Linked DNA regions of Homo sapiens: all the other regions are linked to region 4. Evidence: fine-mapped expression QTL. A gene starts in region 4. Each other region holds a variant in brackets. All regions are shown on one strand. Distances are between the middles of the regions.

Region 1 (4,166 bases), 300 kb before region 4:
CCCTGTAGTTGCAGGGACAGCCCTGGACAGGCTCTGCTCTGACATGCACTTCTGGGTTGTGCTGAGCTTTCCCAAGCCCCACTGGGAAGGAAAGGGGCTCTTGGGGACAGGTGATATCTATCCCATGCCTATGCCCCAGCTTCTCTTCTAGGAACTCCCTAGTGTCTTTCCTAATTTTCTGAGCTTCAGTAGTCCCAGTAAAGGCAGCTCTTATAACTCGACCAATATTCTGCACACATGATGACAGGGAGCTACCCTTTTCCCAGGAACTTTCTTGTTCTTCATATGATATGCTGGGTTTATTAAACCACTGCAAAGAGGTCTTCATCCATTTTCTGAAAAGGTTTTCAGGAGGAGGCTGTGTTTTCAAGGTTGGGGAAGATTTGCTCCCAAGCACCTCCCCTGATGTCTTGTTATGAACAGGGAGGCTCTTTCTCCTGCGTTGGGATGTCCCCAGCCCTGCATCCCCTCCATCAAGCTCTCCTCCTTTGGGTCTCACAGGACTCACTCTGTTTACAGCTGGTGGGAAATTCGTAACTTGACACTTCTGTAAGACACAGGTAGGGACCCTGGGCTCCTGCTTCTGTGCCACACGGATTCCGCTGTCCTCCAAGTGGACATGCACCACCTGGGAAGTTCCCATGTCCCCACTCGAGATGCCCTGGGAATTAGTCAGTAAGTCCTTGGAACTCAAGTTATCTAAGGCAAAAGACATGTCAGTGAAATGGCTCTGAGGTTGGCTATGCTTCCTCTGGACCAACTTTAACTGGCTCAACATCTGATTTTTAAGGTATGATGATTTAGGATCTTGAGGAACTGATATTCTTGGTGGGAAAATTTCAGTTTCATTGGAAGTGCTTGCTTTCACATTTGTCAGTGAGCAGCTTCCTGACTTGCTGGTTGTCAAGTTGTTCCTAGTTTGTGATTGAAGAGCATTGGTGACAGGAAAGGTCTTTCTACTGCCCTGAAGCCTGTCTACATTATGAAAGGAACTCTTTCTCTTATCCCATGACTCACAGCCAGCTCCAGCTTGCATTATGGGCAGCTCTGCGCTGCATCTACTGGCCAGTACAGTCTGTTTCTGACTGACTTCGTCTACGATGCTGTGTGGCGGGGGCAGAAAAGTCTGTCTGCCATCCTCTGTTGTCCGGACACTTTCTGTAAGATCATTGTCAGTATCAGAGAATTCTCTTCTCAGGGTCCCCTGCTTTTCTTGGTTGACAGGTGAAGTGACAAGGTAAGAATGACCGAGGATGGGGAATGAGCTTGTTGAATCTAATTTTTCGCTTTGAAAATCTGTAGTACCTCTTCTAAGGGATGTGGAGGCCCCGTCTTTGGAATCTGTCTCTATAAGGTCATGGTCAGTATCAGAAAATTGTCTTCTCAGGGTCCCCTGCCCTTCTTGGACGACAGGTGAGGAGACAGGGTGAGGACGATCAAGGATGGGGACTGAGCTTGTTGTTCCCAACTTTTCTCCTTGAAAAGTGCTTCGACTACGGGACTTAGAGACCCCATCTTTGGAATCTCCCTGAGAGATGAAGGTGGCTGAGGAGGGAAGGTCGAAATGGGAAAAGGAAGTGGAAAGGTCCGCTTTCGATTTGAAGATTTCTATGGATTCAAGGACCTTGAGGGGAAGGCCCCACAGCATCCTCATACGGAAAGTTTTAATATGGGCTTCCAACATCTTTTGTTTGTTGGAACTAAGGAAGGAAATTTCCTGGGAAGTATCAACGCAGTGGTCCTCACTCACCAATGTTACCAGATTTCGATGTTTAATTTGGCTGTGGGATTTCTCAGGAAGAGACATTGTCTGCTTGACTGAGTGCCATGAACTATGCACAGTCCCAGGCATTCGACCCTCATTGATTTCCTCAAATTTCTTGCTCAAACGTACTGTCAGGGCATTTTCAAGTTGTTTCTGACCTAGTCTCACCCCTGAGTCATTCCCTGACAGATGCATCATATGAGTTTCTAGGTCTCTCTCAGAGTTAGACCTCAGATCCTTGTCTGAAGA[A/T]GTCTCCGGACCATGCAACAGGTGATCTTTTGGGACAGTCTCCTGGCTGTATCCCTGATAATTCCCCACATTCTCCATGGAAAGCATATTTGAGCTCCTCTCGTGGAAGCTTCTAGGGAAGCTTGATGCGGACTTCTTTAGAACATTGCACCTCTGACCCTCAACCAAAGAGATATTTAACGGTCCATGAATTCTCTCTGACACAGATAGCTCTGAAATTTTGCTCTGAGGACGTAGCAATGACAGAGACTCATGGATTCTGCGGGGCAGGCCCCATCTGCGCTGGATGAGCCTCCTTCGAATGTGTTGCTCTAGTTTCTTCCTTACCTCAGAGCTGAGTGGAAAATCTCCAGGAATGATGGAGATCGGAACATGGACCTTGAAGGACTTTCTGACCAATTCAGGATTGGGAGCTGGAGGACAAAAGTCTTCCTGGGATTTTTGAACCACAGAGGGTAAGCCCCACAAACTTTCCTGCACTTTCTGCAACACGTTCCACTCCAGATGGTTAATTTCAGATGGCAAAAGAGACCGTGCCTCGTTCTGGGGTCTATGAAAACACACTCCACAGATCCTAATCAGGAATAGAGGACTAGGTAGTAGGGCTCGGAATGGAGATTGAGGTTGAGCCAGGGACTTCACCTGAGTGAGATGTGGGGACTGACCTTGGGGCAGGGTTTGAGGCAAGGGTAGTGGTTGGGTACTAGGCAAGGACAGAGGTTGGGGAGGGGGAAGTACTGGGGATTCATGGGATATAGATGTATTTGTAATGCCATTGAAGAATACAAACATGGAGGAATGGCCACGTTGGACAAGAACAGTAGGATGCAGAGACTCGCTGTGCAAAGATGGGAGACCCCAGAAGAGCTGGACATATTTTTGCTCTAAATGGTCTTCAAAGCATTTAGAGTGTGGAGGCTGCTGATGGATGTGCTGCCATTCTAGTTTGCCTTTACTGGCCCAAAAAGGAAAGGATTCTGCCAAGTCATGCTTAACAGCAATTGAGGTTAACATATTCCGTGAGGAATTTAGTTGGTAGTTTGGCCTAAGTTGTTTTGGGAATGATCCTGGTTTCTTTCCATTTTCTTTCCACATCAGGAAATCACCCCTTTTTTTGACTTGTCTCTCCAGGAGTGCCAGAATGTCATGGCTGAGAAATGAGATGTTAACAGGCTCTATGAGGTTGGCCACAGAGTGCCCCCCTAAAAAGGCCTCAGAAGAATGAAGGGTAAGAAGCTCCTCCATGAAATCAGATGGCACAAAATTAGAGGAAAAAGAGTCCTTGGCATGAGGCTGCCACCAGGTGAATTCTGAAGATGCAAGGTGTGAATGGTCAATGCCTTTGATTGTTGGGGCAGAGGTGGATGACCCACCAGAGCCACCTAGAGATAACATTTCCGGAAAAGTCTTCAAGATGGTGAGACTTGATTTAGACTGAGTCACAGTGCAATCTTCCGGTGGTAAAGCAGATGGGATTGGTGGTCCGTGATGACGAGCACAAGAATCAATGGGATTCATGGCCTGCGAAATATCTTGGCATAGGGTGGAGCCAAATGAAAAGATGGTGTTCAGAGACAAACTGGCTTCAGGTTGGAGGCTGGACTCCACTCTCTCAATGTGATGTGGTGGGAGAAGGGGAAAGGGAAGCTGTTGGGGTGGGGAATGGTCTATGGGGAACTTGGAATCCAAGGGAGAAACAGGCTGTGGTGGCAGAGGGTCCCTCAGTGGTGAGGGTGAAAATAAGTCAGCTAAGGTGGTGATCAGGTCAGGTGAGAGAATTAAGGGGGGTGGTGGAGAGGCCTTAGGCCGAGGGGACAGTATTAGGTCTTCTGGAGGGGTTGCTGAGGGGGTGGAAGCCAGAGTGAACGATGACTCAGTCGCAGAAGCCGAAGAAGCCAAAGGGGACACAGAGGGAGCAGCATCTTTCAGGGACTCCCAAGACAGCAGTTGCTGGATATCAGCAGTTGCTCTCTTACACACCCGACAGACGGGGTCTGGGCATAACAGTCGACGAAAGTGGTTGGTATCATGATGCTGGCCCCGAGGACTGCAGGAAACAGGAGGTCCAAAGCTGCAGTCAGGACCAGAACAAGGAAAGGAGATTTGTTAGCCTGGCAGGGGTGGGTTCCCTAAAGCCTGCTGCCCATATCAC
Region 2 (4,166 bases), 820 kb after region 4:
ACTATGAATCCTATTTTATTAACCACAACAATTTTCTGTTGGTCTTTCTTTTGCAAAAGAAAAAAATGTTGAAAATAAAATTCCAATACACTATTCTCTGCAACTCCCTTACAGGGAAAATTTATATTCTGATTACTTCAGCCAAACAAACATTTTACTGAATCAAAGGGAAAAGAAAAGCTGCTAATTGTCCTCATTTATGGTTGCTATTCCAATATGAATCAAGAAAAATAATTTTTTTTCCAATTTTAAAAATTGTGGGCCACATGTTCTTTTGCCTTCCATCTGTTTATTTTTATATAAATTTCTACACTAGGAATTTTATACTTTAAAAAACAAGCTCTAAAATTGTTCTACACCCACAAGTAGGCTTCTTGGGTCTATACATATGCATTAGATATATAAAATCCAAAGAGATAAACTAAAACATCACTTTCCACTGAAAAGATTGTTAATTTTCAAAATGGCTTCCTATGACTGATTCTTTTTTAGCCACTGCCCAGTTGAAAATCTTTGAGAGAGAAAAAATTCTTCATTCATTTCTCATTCCTTACAAACATAGAGCGGAACAGTCTGAGCCTCAGAAAATTAGTCCCAGGTGATATTTTGCTAACCTTAATTTTGAAGTAATGTCAAATGAAAAACTGTATCTATTTAGTTAGTTTATACATGTCTAAATTTCTTTGGATTACTGCAGTTTTATTAGTTAAAAATACTGTTATACATGAGTTGAGGTTTTTATGGGGAGGGAAAACATGCATCATGTTATGAAAGACAGACATATTTAAAGTGTTGCCATTTGTTATACATGAATTAGAAAAGGATGACACAGCTATGTTTTGAAGTCATGTCTTCATAAATTATTTTATAAATAATAGTTAAAATAAAACATCAAATTTATTTTTTCAATACTTTTTTTCCCTGTAATCTTTAAATCCAGGCATATATTAAAGAAAACTAGATCCTTAAATTTCTAAGTTATGTATACTTGTGCAACCAAAAGAGATTTATATGGCTTTCTTATTTTTTAGTCCTGCAAGTCTTTTTAATATTTATGTGTTTATTTGCTCAGAAAGTATTTAAGTCCATATTTTTTTGTCGAAACTGGAAATTGTGCTTTGTTAAGTGTAAACAACATAAAAAACCAAAAGTATTTCCTAAGTTTGGAATTAATCTCCCAATCCATGAAAATGGAGAAACTTCTCACATTGGCAAAATGTGTTCCTACCCTGGCTACCAAAGAAGAAGAATGGGCCAACAAGTAGCTTTAGAATTTTTGCCAGCAATTTACATATGAATCAAATGTGATCTTTCTTTAAATTGCACTTAATATAGGAAGTACAGCCATGTTTGATTTCAAGCTGAATTGATATGTGAGCAGTCATTGGCTGTCCATAATTAAAATCTTACAGAAAGCCCACCTATGATGAGCAATTTAATATTTGTGGTCTTAGTTGGTAAACTATGCCAATTCCATGAAAAGCATATTTTCATAGTTAGAGCCAGGCTAACCACATAGAGCTCTTTCTTTCTCTATCCATAATTATATAATTAGATTATTTTTATCTTAAACATACTTTGAAAACATTTTCTTTATGGTACATTATTAAAGAATCATGCCTTCTAAAGGTCTCTTCCTAAGCCAAGAAATCCACATGTTATGTATTATGCAGAAGAGATTTTCATGAGTAGATTTCTGTAAAGCTTTGAACCAAGGTCCAGGAATTATATTACAGTTTGCCAGTGATATTTAAAAAGTGAGAGTAATATAGTTGCAAAGCAAACTTTAGTAAGATAATTGATGGGAAATGATATTGAATGTTAGAAAAAAATGTTGTTATTACTCTTAATGCCAAATCTGTGTTTCTCATGAGTTAGACTTAAACATTTAGGATGAGATAACTGTACCCTCTATATAAGAACTGCATTTACTAAGGAGGGATGAGAGGAGGAGGCAGTCGTAATCTGTAATAAGTCTATTCTGTCTCTATATTTGGTAATGAATGTATATGTCATCTTTCATTTTCAGGTCTCTATTTTTCTCATTTTATTTTAAAAACTATTTATTTATTTATTCATTTTTAGACAGGATCCCACTGTGTCACCCAGGCTGAAGTGCAGTGGCACCATTATAGCTCACTGCAGCCTTGAACTCTTGGGCTCAAGTGATCCTCCTACCTCAGCCTCCCGAGTAGCTGGGACTACAGGTGCGTGCCACCATACCTGTATGTATGTGTGTGTGTGTGTGTGTGTGTATGTGTGTACATATATATTACATTACACATATTATATATTATATATATTACACATATTATATATAATATATATTACACATATATATTATATATTACACATATTATATATATTACACATATATAACAT[ATG/G]TATATTATATAACATATATTACATATATAACATATATTATGCATATTATGTAACATATATGTATTACACATATTATATATAATATATATTATATATATTACACATATTATATATTTTATATATATTACACACATATACCTATATGGTTTTTTGTTTGTTTTGTTTTAGAGACAGGGTCTCGCTATGTTACCCAGGCTGGACACAAACTCCTGGCCTCAAGCAATTGTCCTGCCTCAGCCTCCCAAAGTGGAAAGTGCTGGGACTAAAGGTGTGAGCCACTGTGCCTGGCCCTTGTCTCTATTTTATATATGCCCAGGAGATAGTGCAAATATGTGAATAAATAAACAAACTAGGAATACAGAGTTTGGTAGCTATGATTATAAACTCTGGTAACTTGCTTATTTTTATTGTGTCTCTATTTTCTCTTTCATTACACTAGAAATGTCAATTGCCTACCTGATGGCTGTGAAAAACAGAAAGAAGAAACAAAGACATATCTGTGTAAGGACAGAATGGCAAGGGACATAGAAGCATGTGATATGATAATCCTACTCAACTAAATAGACAATATTAGTGAATGGCAACTTGTAAATGGTTTTGATTATATTTATTTTATTTTCTGTCTATCTAGATGTAAAGGTTGAGCTTGAAAAAAGAAAACTACTCTTGACGCTGAAGAACGCAATCCAACATGAAAGAATGCTTATTTCAAGTTTTACCTGAATCTACCTAGAGCTGAATTTCTTATCTATACTTTACTACAGATATTCTGCTTTGTGCAGATCTACAATGGATCATTAAAGTCAAAGGACAATTACTTATCTTTCTACTCCTCCCAGTACCCAAGACCTGAGAGTGAGATATTAAATTCGTCCTTAGATCTTTCATGCAATGTTACAGCTCTTTGGAACTCCTCATGAAGCTCCTCCTCTCCATGGTGGAATTTTACTCTGAGGAGAGATAGGCTAAAATGTTTCAGTCCCCTATATGATAAGTCCAAAATCACCGTTTCACATATATGCTGACCTGATACATTGAGTCACTGATACGTGTCTTTCCACCTTCAGTATATTTTCTTTGACTAGCTTTATTGCTTCCCTGTGATGCTGAATTTTGAGCATGGATGTGTGTGTCCATAACAAAACCATCCTAGGTAAACTGAATTTGGTTATTTGAATTTCATAATTACTCTTTACTCCAAGTGTTGTGGATTCATGATGCAAATTTACCCATTCCCATTGCAATAACTTAGAGCCAAATATCAATTATTTTAAAACTTGGTTCTCATCACTGAACTAACAGTGTTGAAAAAGACAATTTGCCTATATTTAATAGTTTGCTAGTAAACTTTATTTTGGGTTACATCAAACTTGTAATAAGTAGTGACTGGATTGGGAAGGTGAGGTGTGCTGATTTAAGGATGCCTCTCCATCTATTTTATGTGCTAGAAAATAGGTAGCAAAAAATAAATCTTGCAGTACTCTCTTTTGATTAACTACACATTTTCCATCTTGGAGTAAAAAGTAATTATGAAATTCAACTCTAATTGTATAGTTTTTCTGTGTAAAATAACTGATGAAAATAGAATAATTTAGATGCTTTTTCTTTTATTTTTTATAGTATTGAATAGTGGAGCATAACAAATAGTACCTTCAGTTTGCTTTCTCTGGAAAAAAATGATTTGGTAAGATTTTACATGTCCCACAAATGCTCTTAAACAAAAGATATGTCCCCAAGTGGACAACAGATAAGTTTTTATTTTAAAAAGGAAAGGAAGAAAT
Region 3 (4,166 bases), 79 kb before region 4:
CCTTATAGATTTTTTGGTGAGGGTGAAAATATATGACATGTAAAGCCCCTTAGCACAGTACCTGGTACATAGTAGATGCTCAAAAAATTGCTATTGGGCTGGGCACAGTGGCTCACACCCAGCACTTTGGGAGGCTGAGGTGGGCGTATCATTTGAGGTCAGGAGTTCGAGACCAGCCTGGCCAATATGGTGAAACCCCATCTCTACTAAAACTACAAAAATTAGCCAGGCGTAGGGGCACATGCCTGTAGTCGCAGCTACTAGGGAGGCTGAAGCACAAGAATCTCTTGAACCTGGGAGGCAAAGGTTGCAGTGAGCAGAGTTCGCGCCACTGCACTCCAGCCTGGGGGACAGAGAAAGACTTTGTCTCAAAAAAAAAATTGCTAATTGATGCCCTTAATATAATTTTTACTTTCACAGACACAGCAATTGCTTTTTTTTTTTTTTTTTTAAACAGAGTCTCTTTTTGTCACCCAGGCTGGAGTGCAATGGTGCTATCTTGGCTCACTGGAACCTCTGCCTCCTGAGTTCAAGCGATTCTCCTGCCTCAGCCTCCCGAGTAGCTGAGACTACAGGTGCCCGCCACTATGCCCGAGTAATTTTTTTGTATTTTTCAGTAGAGACAGTGTTTCACTATGTTGGCCAGGCTGGTCTCGAACTGCTGATCTCAGATGATCTGTCCACCTCGGCCTCCTAAAGTGCTGGGATTACTGGTGTGAGCCACTGTACCCAGCCTTGTTTTTAATTTTCCACAGAAACTGACACCAAATTCAGTCCCATCCTTCCTTTATTCAACTGATTTTCTCCCTGACATTTCAGACTTCATGTTTACTATTGTAACATTAATGTGTGTTCATCTTATCTTCCCAGCGTATTGAGATTTTCTTTAGATTTATATACTGTTGTGTCACCTGCAGATCAGATACACCTGACCTTCAAGTCTTCATCCTGGTTGCTGGTCATGCTACAGATAGATGGACCAAGGACAGACACCCCCATGACACACCAGGAGACCTTCATCAGGTTTATGCCTGTTCGCAGTTTTCAGCAGTCGTTTAATGAGTTGTGAATAGACGTGCTGCATTGACACCCTACACAAATGCTATTATATTTCCACAAGCACATCCTAAGAGAAAAACCGGAGGATCAATTTGTCTCTGGCATTCCCCATATCTATTTGCCTAGTAACTCTGCTACATAAGAAAATATCTGCTATGATTTAATGAATTTATACTGGCTCTTGATGCTCATTTTCTTTTCTAATTATTTATAAGTCATCTCTCTAATAATTCACAGTATGTCTTTTCCTCCTCCTTCTTCTTTGTATTAGGCAAAATAATAATGGATCCCCAAATATGTCCATATCTTAATGCCAGAGCCTGTGAAATTGTTCTTTCTGTGGCAAAGGGACCTTATGGATGTGATTTTAAGGTTAAGAACTTTGACATAAGGAGAGAAGCCTGAATTATCCAATTTCCCAATCTAATTACATGAGTCTTTTTTTTTTTTTTTTTTTTTTTGAGATGAGAGTCTTGTTCTGTCGCCCAGGCTGGAGTGCAGTGGCTCGATCTCAGCTCACTGCAACCTCCACCTCCCGGGCTTAAGCGAATCTCATGCCTCAGCCTCCCTAGTAGCTGGGATTATAGGGGCCTGCCTGGTTAATTTTTGTAGTTTTTAAAGTAGAGACGGGGTTTTGCTATGTTCGCCAGACTGGTCTTGAGCTCCTGGCCTCAAGTGATCTGCCTGCCTCAGTCCCCCAAAGTGCTGGGATTACAGG[C/T]GTGAGCCACTGTGCCCAGTCTAATCACATGAGTCTTAAAAGCAGAGAACCTTTTTCAGCTGTGGTCAGGGGGGTGATAAAGTTCCCTGAGGGAGGTGCAATGTCGCTGGCTTTAGCAGAAGAGGAGGAGGGCCACAAGCCAAGGAAAGTGGGCAGTCTTTGGAAGTCAGAAAAGGCAGAAAACAAATTCTCCTCTACAACCTCCAGAAAGGAATGTAGCTGTGCCAAAAGTTGATTCAGCCCACTGAGACCTGTGTTGGACTTCTGGTCTTCAGAACTGTAAAATAATAAATCTGTGTTGTTTGAAGCCCCAAAAGTGCTAACTTGTTATAGCAGCCATAGGAAACTAATACCTTCTCATCATCTTTCTCCTGCTCTTTTGTGAATTCATACTTTGAGTTAACATAGATTTTTTTTTCAATTTCACTTTTGGCCAATTGGGGCTTAATTTGGCCATGACATTGGAGACCAGGATAAGTCTGGTGAATAGCAGGAAGTCATCAGTTAATCTCTCAATAACAAATCATTCTTGTCTCTCCATTTATGTAGGTTACAATGACATGCCTGTGTAGCAAAACTTTGTTGGAATTGTAATCACTATGACAACATAACTGTATTTCTTTTTTGACACAAGATCTCACTTGGTTATTCAGACTGAAGTGGCGTGAATATGGCTCACTGCAGCTTCAACCACATGGGCTTAAGTGATCCTCCCACCTCAGCCTTCCAAGTAGCTGGGACTACAGATGCACCATCACACCTGGCTAATTTTTTGCTTGTTTGTAAAGAGGAAGTCTCACTTTTTGCCCAGGCTAGTCTTGAACTCCTGGGCTCAAATAATCCTCCTGCCTCAGTCTCCCAAAGTGCTGGGATTACAACTATATTTCTTTTTTAAAAAAACATCTAAAAATTCATCTAGTCTTTACTCCCTTGCACTTCTGATGTAAATCAACAAAATTTGGTGTGGTTTTACTAAATATATTCTATCCTTACAACCTGTACAATAATGGTATTGTGGAAGCTACACTTGTGAGCCAGAGCCCAACTCTGTCACTTAACAGTTTTGTGACTTTCAATAGTTATTTCTTTCTGCACCTCAGTTTTCATACCTAGAAAAAAAAGGACATATGATGAGATAATCTCTAAAGTCTCTTTCTTCCTCCAAATTGCCGTGTTTTATCAGAGTATAGACCAAAAAAAAAAAATTGTCCCTGTTTCTTTGCCAAAAGGATAAACCAATTAAAATACATTACTTTATTCCTTTGTTCATGCCAGTCCATTTACATGAAATGCACTCTCCTTCTCCTTTATTTTCTTTGACCACTTATTTTTCCAGCTAGTAAAATGCTCCTCTGCTTTCAAGTCCCAAATCAAATGCCACTTCTCATGAAAACTTCCTTGATCACAGCATCAGGAGTTAATCTTGCTCTCTTCTGAAATACTACAGCACTCATTTCCTGTAGGCTTATCACACACTGAGTTATTCTCCTTTGTTGCCATGTCTTGCCACTCCAACCAGACTGCAGCCTTCTGGAGATGGGACCATGTTCCTTGTCTGCCAGTCATAAGTGTTGAGTAAATATCCTGGCCGGGCACAGTGGCTCACGCCTGTAATCCCAGTACTTTGGGAGGCCTAGGTGGGTGGATCACTTGAGGTCAGGAGTTCAAGACCAGCCTGGCCAACACGGTGAAACCCTGTCTCTGCTAAAAATACAAAAATTAGCCAGGCGTGGTGGCACACGCCTGTAATCCCAGCTACTCAGGAGGCTGAGGCAGGAGAATCGCTTGAACCCAGGAAGCGGGGGTTGCAGTGAGCTGTGATTGTGCCACTGCACTCCATCCTGGGTGACAGAGTGAGACTCAGTCTCAAAACAAACAAACAAAAATCCTGCCTTTTCTCCTGTTATAATGGAAGCAGTGTCCTACTTCTCCTATTTAAAGCCCATCCTCTTATAGTCTTCTGATTCCTCCCCTCCTGCCTCTCACAGACTCCATGACATCCATCAGCTCCTATCTCTCCTTTTCCTTTAACTTTTCCAGCTTCAGCCCATCAGCTCAACTGTCTCCCATTTGATTAAAAAAAAAAAAAAAATTCCTCCAAAGGCCCTATATCCAACTCCAGCCCCATCCCCAGATCTCCCACTGTCACATGTCCTGGAGGAGTGGAGGTGTGTACATCCACCCCCTCTACTTCACCACCGCCTCCTTGTGCTTCTGCTCACTGCCGTCTGCCTTCCACCCCATCACTCCACAGAACTTCCCCCAAGGCTACCAATGCCCCCTACTCACTATAGACAGTGGACACTATACTTATCCTCTAGGCATCACTTTCTGCTATTGACCAAGAGCTCCTTCCCGAAACCCTTTCTTCCATGGCCCTCTGTGGCAG
Region 4 (4,166 bases):
ATTTAACCAAGGAAAGTGAGGCAGTGCTTTCTTCTTTTTTGTTCTCCATGTTAGCAAAATGAATAATACAGCCGCCTTCCCAACTGTACTTAATGAGAACACCACAAAGCTACAATGCCCAACTTGTTTAAGAATTTACTATGGCTTCGTACAGACTGGTTAAAATCGCTTTTTTATTTTTTCATTTATAATTGATATTTGGGAGTGATGCAATTATAGACAAATCAATATCATACATATTTAAAAACAACTCCAACAGTGAAATGTATTATCTAAAATGACTTCTAAAACTATTTCAAGAAAAAGAACTCTGTAAAAGCACATCTTTAAATAAAATGTATGTCTGTTTAAATAAGCTCCTTCCCGTAAGTCTCTTGAAGGTAAAATAATAAAATAATAACGTGGGGGTTATTAATACCAAAAACTTAACTAGTTTCCAACATAAGATAAATACTTGTCCAAGATGTGCCCTTATGGAAGAAGTTACCACCGTTTGGCTAAACCAGCATTATTCATTCACTGCTCATGTGGAAATGTTCCTCAAACAAAAGCATAAATGCGGCAATACTGACGGTTTTCTGCTGTGTATTTAGAGACATACACAAAAACCAAAGACTCTCAGCATTAATTATACAGCATGTCTTGATTATTACAATCTCAAAATCCCTTTTAACTCAAGTTCCACTTCATAAGAACCTTAGCCACGTCATTTACCTAACTCTTCCCATTTAGCTCTTCACACAGCTCAGCTCAGGAGTACCACCCAGACTGTGGGGGTGGGGTGTGCGGGACAGGTTTTTCAGGTCTCAGTGCTGGTTTATTACATTGTCTCTCTTTGTTCCCAGGAATTGGAAACAGACTCGTAGTCTTGTAGCTGAGAAGTTCCTAAAAACCTCAGCCGCTCCCCACCTCTCCCAACACAGCGAAGTCAGGACTTTTAAGACGAAGACCTGGGATTTCGCGCCCCGGGCAAAACGTCTCATCTGCGGACACGCGTGCCTTGTTCTGGCAGCACCCTGGGAATCCTTCCCGCCAAACGGGACAGGACGATCTTTTTGAAAAGTGGCTTGAAATCCTGCAATAAAAATCAAATCCTACCACTTTGGGTGCAAAGGGGGTGGGTGGGGTGGGAGGACATCACAGTCGTCTTTGCTGGTGTACCTACGCCAACCGTGGCGTTGCTCATTTACGCATTTCCAACTAAGTGCACAGTCCACTCCCTCTCGTACATCCGTAAAAAGGCAGCTCAAGGAAAAACAAACCTCAGATAAATTTTTGAATGTGGCCTCACTTTTAGAGTAGCATCAAACAAGGGGTCCAGCACTGAAAAACACATTTGCTCGAATTACCAAAAGCCCCCCTCCGCCTCCAATAAGAAACTCCGCAGCTAGTCTTTGAGTTACTTTCACTTAGATCTGAGGATTTTCATTAAAGGGAAAAGTGAGCAAGTGGCAGGATTTTTGCTAACTCGAGCCCTCAGCTTCCCCGGCTGCACGCTCGCCAGTCCCTCCCGCTAGCGCGCGCCCGCGCGCTCTCTAGCCAGCCCCACGTTACTTTGATTGACAGCCCAGCCCCGCCGCTCTCCTTCCCACCGACCTTCCCATCATCAGTGCCAATCTCCGCGAATCGCCGCTTCCCATTGGCTGGTTTTGGCGTCCCGCGGCTCCTCCAGGAACAGTTCCTCACCAAGCCCGGGAGGACGCGGCTGGCGGAGGAGGGGCCGGGATGGGAAGGGAGACCGAGGAGACGGCGGAGATGGAAGCGAGAGGAGGGGGGGAGGGAGAACGCCCCGTCCGGCGCTGCGCTGCCATACGCTCCGGGGAGGAGCGCGTCAGCGCCCCACGTTGGTTGCAGCGCACGCGATTGGCTGATGCGGGCCTTCTGCCCCCCCCCCACCCCCCAACCTCCCGGGCTCACGTCCCCCGCCGGCTCCGCGCTCGCGCCCCCCGCCCGAACGGGGCTGGGCGGGGCCGGCGCTGGTTAGCTCCGGAGTGTGAAACCGCGTGTTAATGTAAGCGGCGCGAGAGGCGCGGGCGGCGGCGGCGGTGGGAGCGGCGGCTGCAGAAGCAGCAGCAGCAGAAACAGCGGCGGGTACTCTGTGCCCCGCGTCCCGGAGGCAGCCGACTGCGCCACCCCACCCTCGCACGGCCGGGCGGGACCCGCGCCACCAGCCCGGACCTCCGTCGTCCCGCGGCGACCAAAACCCCCGCTGGCCCCACCGCTGTGACTACTCTGGACTCGCCCGCAGAGTTTGCCCGCCGGGGAGGGTGGCCGATTGGCGGAGCGCACTCCTGCTGTTTTCCCCACCATCTCGTGGATGTCGTCCCTCGGGTGGTGAGAGAACTTTGCAGTGGGCTGGAGCGCCCTTTGCGGAGAAGCACACGAAGGTGAAGGAAGGAAAGAAAGAAGACCGAGGAAGAAGGAGCTCGGAAGAAGGGTCCGGAGCGGCCGGTCCGGCCGTGCAGGGCGAGTGCGCCCGAGGCGCGGCGCCCTGATGCTCCCCGGGCTCGAGGAGCATTGGGCACTTGCGGGACTGCTCTCGGTGGAGTAGCCCCGTCGGGCCCGGAGGGTTTGTGCAACCGCGGAGAACACCGAGTGCTGGTCGCACGGGGCGTGCCGAGCCGCCTCCCGGCGCGCCCTCCGCACTTTCCCCGCCTCGTCATCCGTCGCTCCCCGGCCAGGAGCCTCCGCTGCGTCTTCAACCTCGCTCCCCTTTGCGTCCCGGGAGCCTGCGAGCACCCGGCCGAAGGCGCAGCCGAATCTTGCGGGAGTCGCCCCGAAAGCGTCGGGTTTGTGTGGGGTTAGCGGGGGCCGCCGCGCCACCTGCACCTCGCCCGCCGCCGCCTCGGGGAAAGCCCGAAGAGGAGGCGGACCAGGAGAAGAGCAAAGAAAAGCAGTCCGTCTGGATTTGTTTGCCCAGGACTGGCGCCGCGCACGCGGATCGCCGAGGGGAGTGCGGTCGGAGTCACCGCGCCCCCGCCTCCCCGCCCGGGCAGCTGAGGCCGGGGGTTGGAGCGCTGCCCCCGCGCACAGTCCCCGAGCGCCCGACGTCTCCGCGCAGGTTCTTGAAGCAGCTGGGCCTGGGGCGCCCACTAATGTGGCCCTGAGGGCCGGAGCCCGCACCGACGGGAGCGGGAGCCGGAGCAGCTGCGGGCGCCGAGTGGCCGGTGCGCCCGGCGGAGCGCGCGTGCGTGGCCAGCGCGCTCCCCGCTTCTGCTTGGCTTTCCGGCTTAATTTTCCTCGGCGGGATTAAAGTTGGAAATTGACCGGAGAATTGAGTTGCCGGGGAACAGAGCCCCGGCCGCCGCCAGAGCGATGTTCCCGCAGAGCCGGCACCCGGTGAGGCGCGGCTGGGTGGTGGTGGGGGGCCAGGATCGTTGGGGAGGCGCTTCTCCCGGGCGGTAGGGAGACTGGTGGCTTCTGAGGCCCGGCGGACCTTCTCGCCCTCAGCGGTGTAAGGCTGGGGAGGTCTGGGGCCCTCTCTTCCTGGGGTGGGGAGTGGGCCGAAACTCTTAATTTTCTCCCTCCCTTTGGGCTCCTTCCTACTTGACGTCTATACCGAGCGGACAGGGGCGCTGGGGAAGGCTGGGGTTTCTCTCCTGCAGCCATATCCCCTCTACCTTCCCCGAGTGGGGGCAGGGCGCCCCCCCCTTTGTTTCTCCTCTCGCCTATTTACATGTCAATGCGGCCCCGGTTCCGGTGCGTCTGGAGGTGGCCCCGGCGACTCTGGGAATGGGGAGCGTAAAGGAGTTGTTTTTCTCCTCTGGTCCCCGGGGTCATTATCGCCGCCGTGGGGGAAGGGGCGGCGACACCGACAATCTGGCCTGGTCTTCCCTGGCCGCCGGGGAGCCCCCTTCCCTTTGGCCTGGTGACCCGGGCGCACTTAGCGCAATCCGCCCTGGAGACTGGGAAGAGCTTCCGAGCCTCTTTAGAAGCCGGGGCCCGGGGAGGGTCCGCTTTCCCCCTCCCCATAGTGAAGGGCAAACTCGAGTTTGGGGCCTCGTTTTCAGCCACTTCTAACTTTATGTTTATGTCCCACCCGTTCTTGCCTTCTCTGACTTACTGCTTTATTCATCCGCCCGCATTCCCGTCCCTCGGTCCCCCTCGCTGGTCGCCCCCAGACGCCGCACCAGGCTGCAGGCCAGCCCTTCAAGTTCACTATCCCG

Direction of the effects. Alleles are on the strand shown, and positions count from the first base shown. SD is a standard deviation of normalised expression in the study named. Not every link is listed here.
For the expression in fibroblasts of the gene that starts at base 2,009 in region 4, allele G in region 2 goes with a higher level than allele ATG (small effect, 0.39 SD a copy in GENCORD).

Evidence for each region. PIP is the estimated chance that this variant, and not a neighbour inherited with it, causes the effect. A credible set is the group of variants that fine-mapping cannot tell apart.
Region 1: its variant is the best candidate, but not a certain one, in a credible set for the expression of TLE1 in whole blood (INTERVAL, PIP 0.50).
Region 2: its variant is the best candidate, but not a certain one, in a credible set for the expression of TLE1 in fibroblasts (GENCORD, PIP 0.51).
Region 3: its variant is the best candidate, but not a certain one, in a credible set for the expression of TLE1 in aorta (GTEx, PIP 0.83).

The regions. Positions count from the first base shown.
Region 1 is chr9:81,990,692-81,994,857 of GRCh38, reverse strand. It overlaps SPATA31D1 (SPATA31 subfamily D member 1), which reads right to left. Exons shown (of 4, transcript NM_001001670.3): 4 at 1-4,085. The region is part of intron 1 of LOC105376107 (a long non-coding RNA gene); the gene reads right to left. Among named protein-coding and RNA genes, the nearest start is that of SPATA31D1, 4.0 kb to the right of the region's middle. The variant A/T (reference allele first, on the strand shown) is at 2,015.
Region 2 is chr9:80,869,214-80,873,379 of GRCh38, reverse strand. No RefSeq gene overlaps it. Among named protein-coding and RNA genes, the nearest start is that of TLE1, 820 kb to the left of the region's middle. The variant ATG/G (reference allele first, on the strand shown) is at 2,383.
Region 3 is chr9:81,766,049-81,770,214 of GRCh38, reverse strand. The region is part of intron 3 of TLE1-DT (TLE1 divergent transcript); the gene reads right to left. Among named protein-coding and RNA genes, the nearest start is that of TLE1-DT, 78 kb to the right of the region's middle. The variant C/T (reference allele first, on the strand shown) is at 1,778.
Region 4 is chr9:81,687,390-81,691,555 of GRCh38, reverse strand. TLE1 (TLE family member 1, transcriptional corepressor) reads left to right here and starts at 2,009. Exons shown (of 20, transcript NM_005077.5): 1 at 2,009-3,339; 2 at 4,122-4,166. The coding sequence starts at 3,316. TLE1-DT (TLE1 divergent transcript) reads right to left here and starts at 1,843. Exons shown (of 4, transcript NR_109772.1): 1 at 1,597-1,843. RefSeq lists silencers at 1,462-1,611, 1,762-2,111 and an enhancer at 1,984-2,698.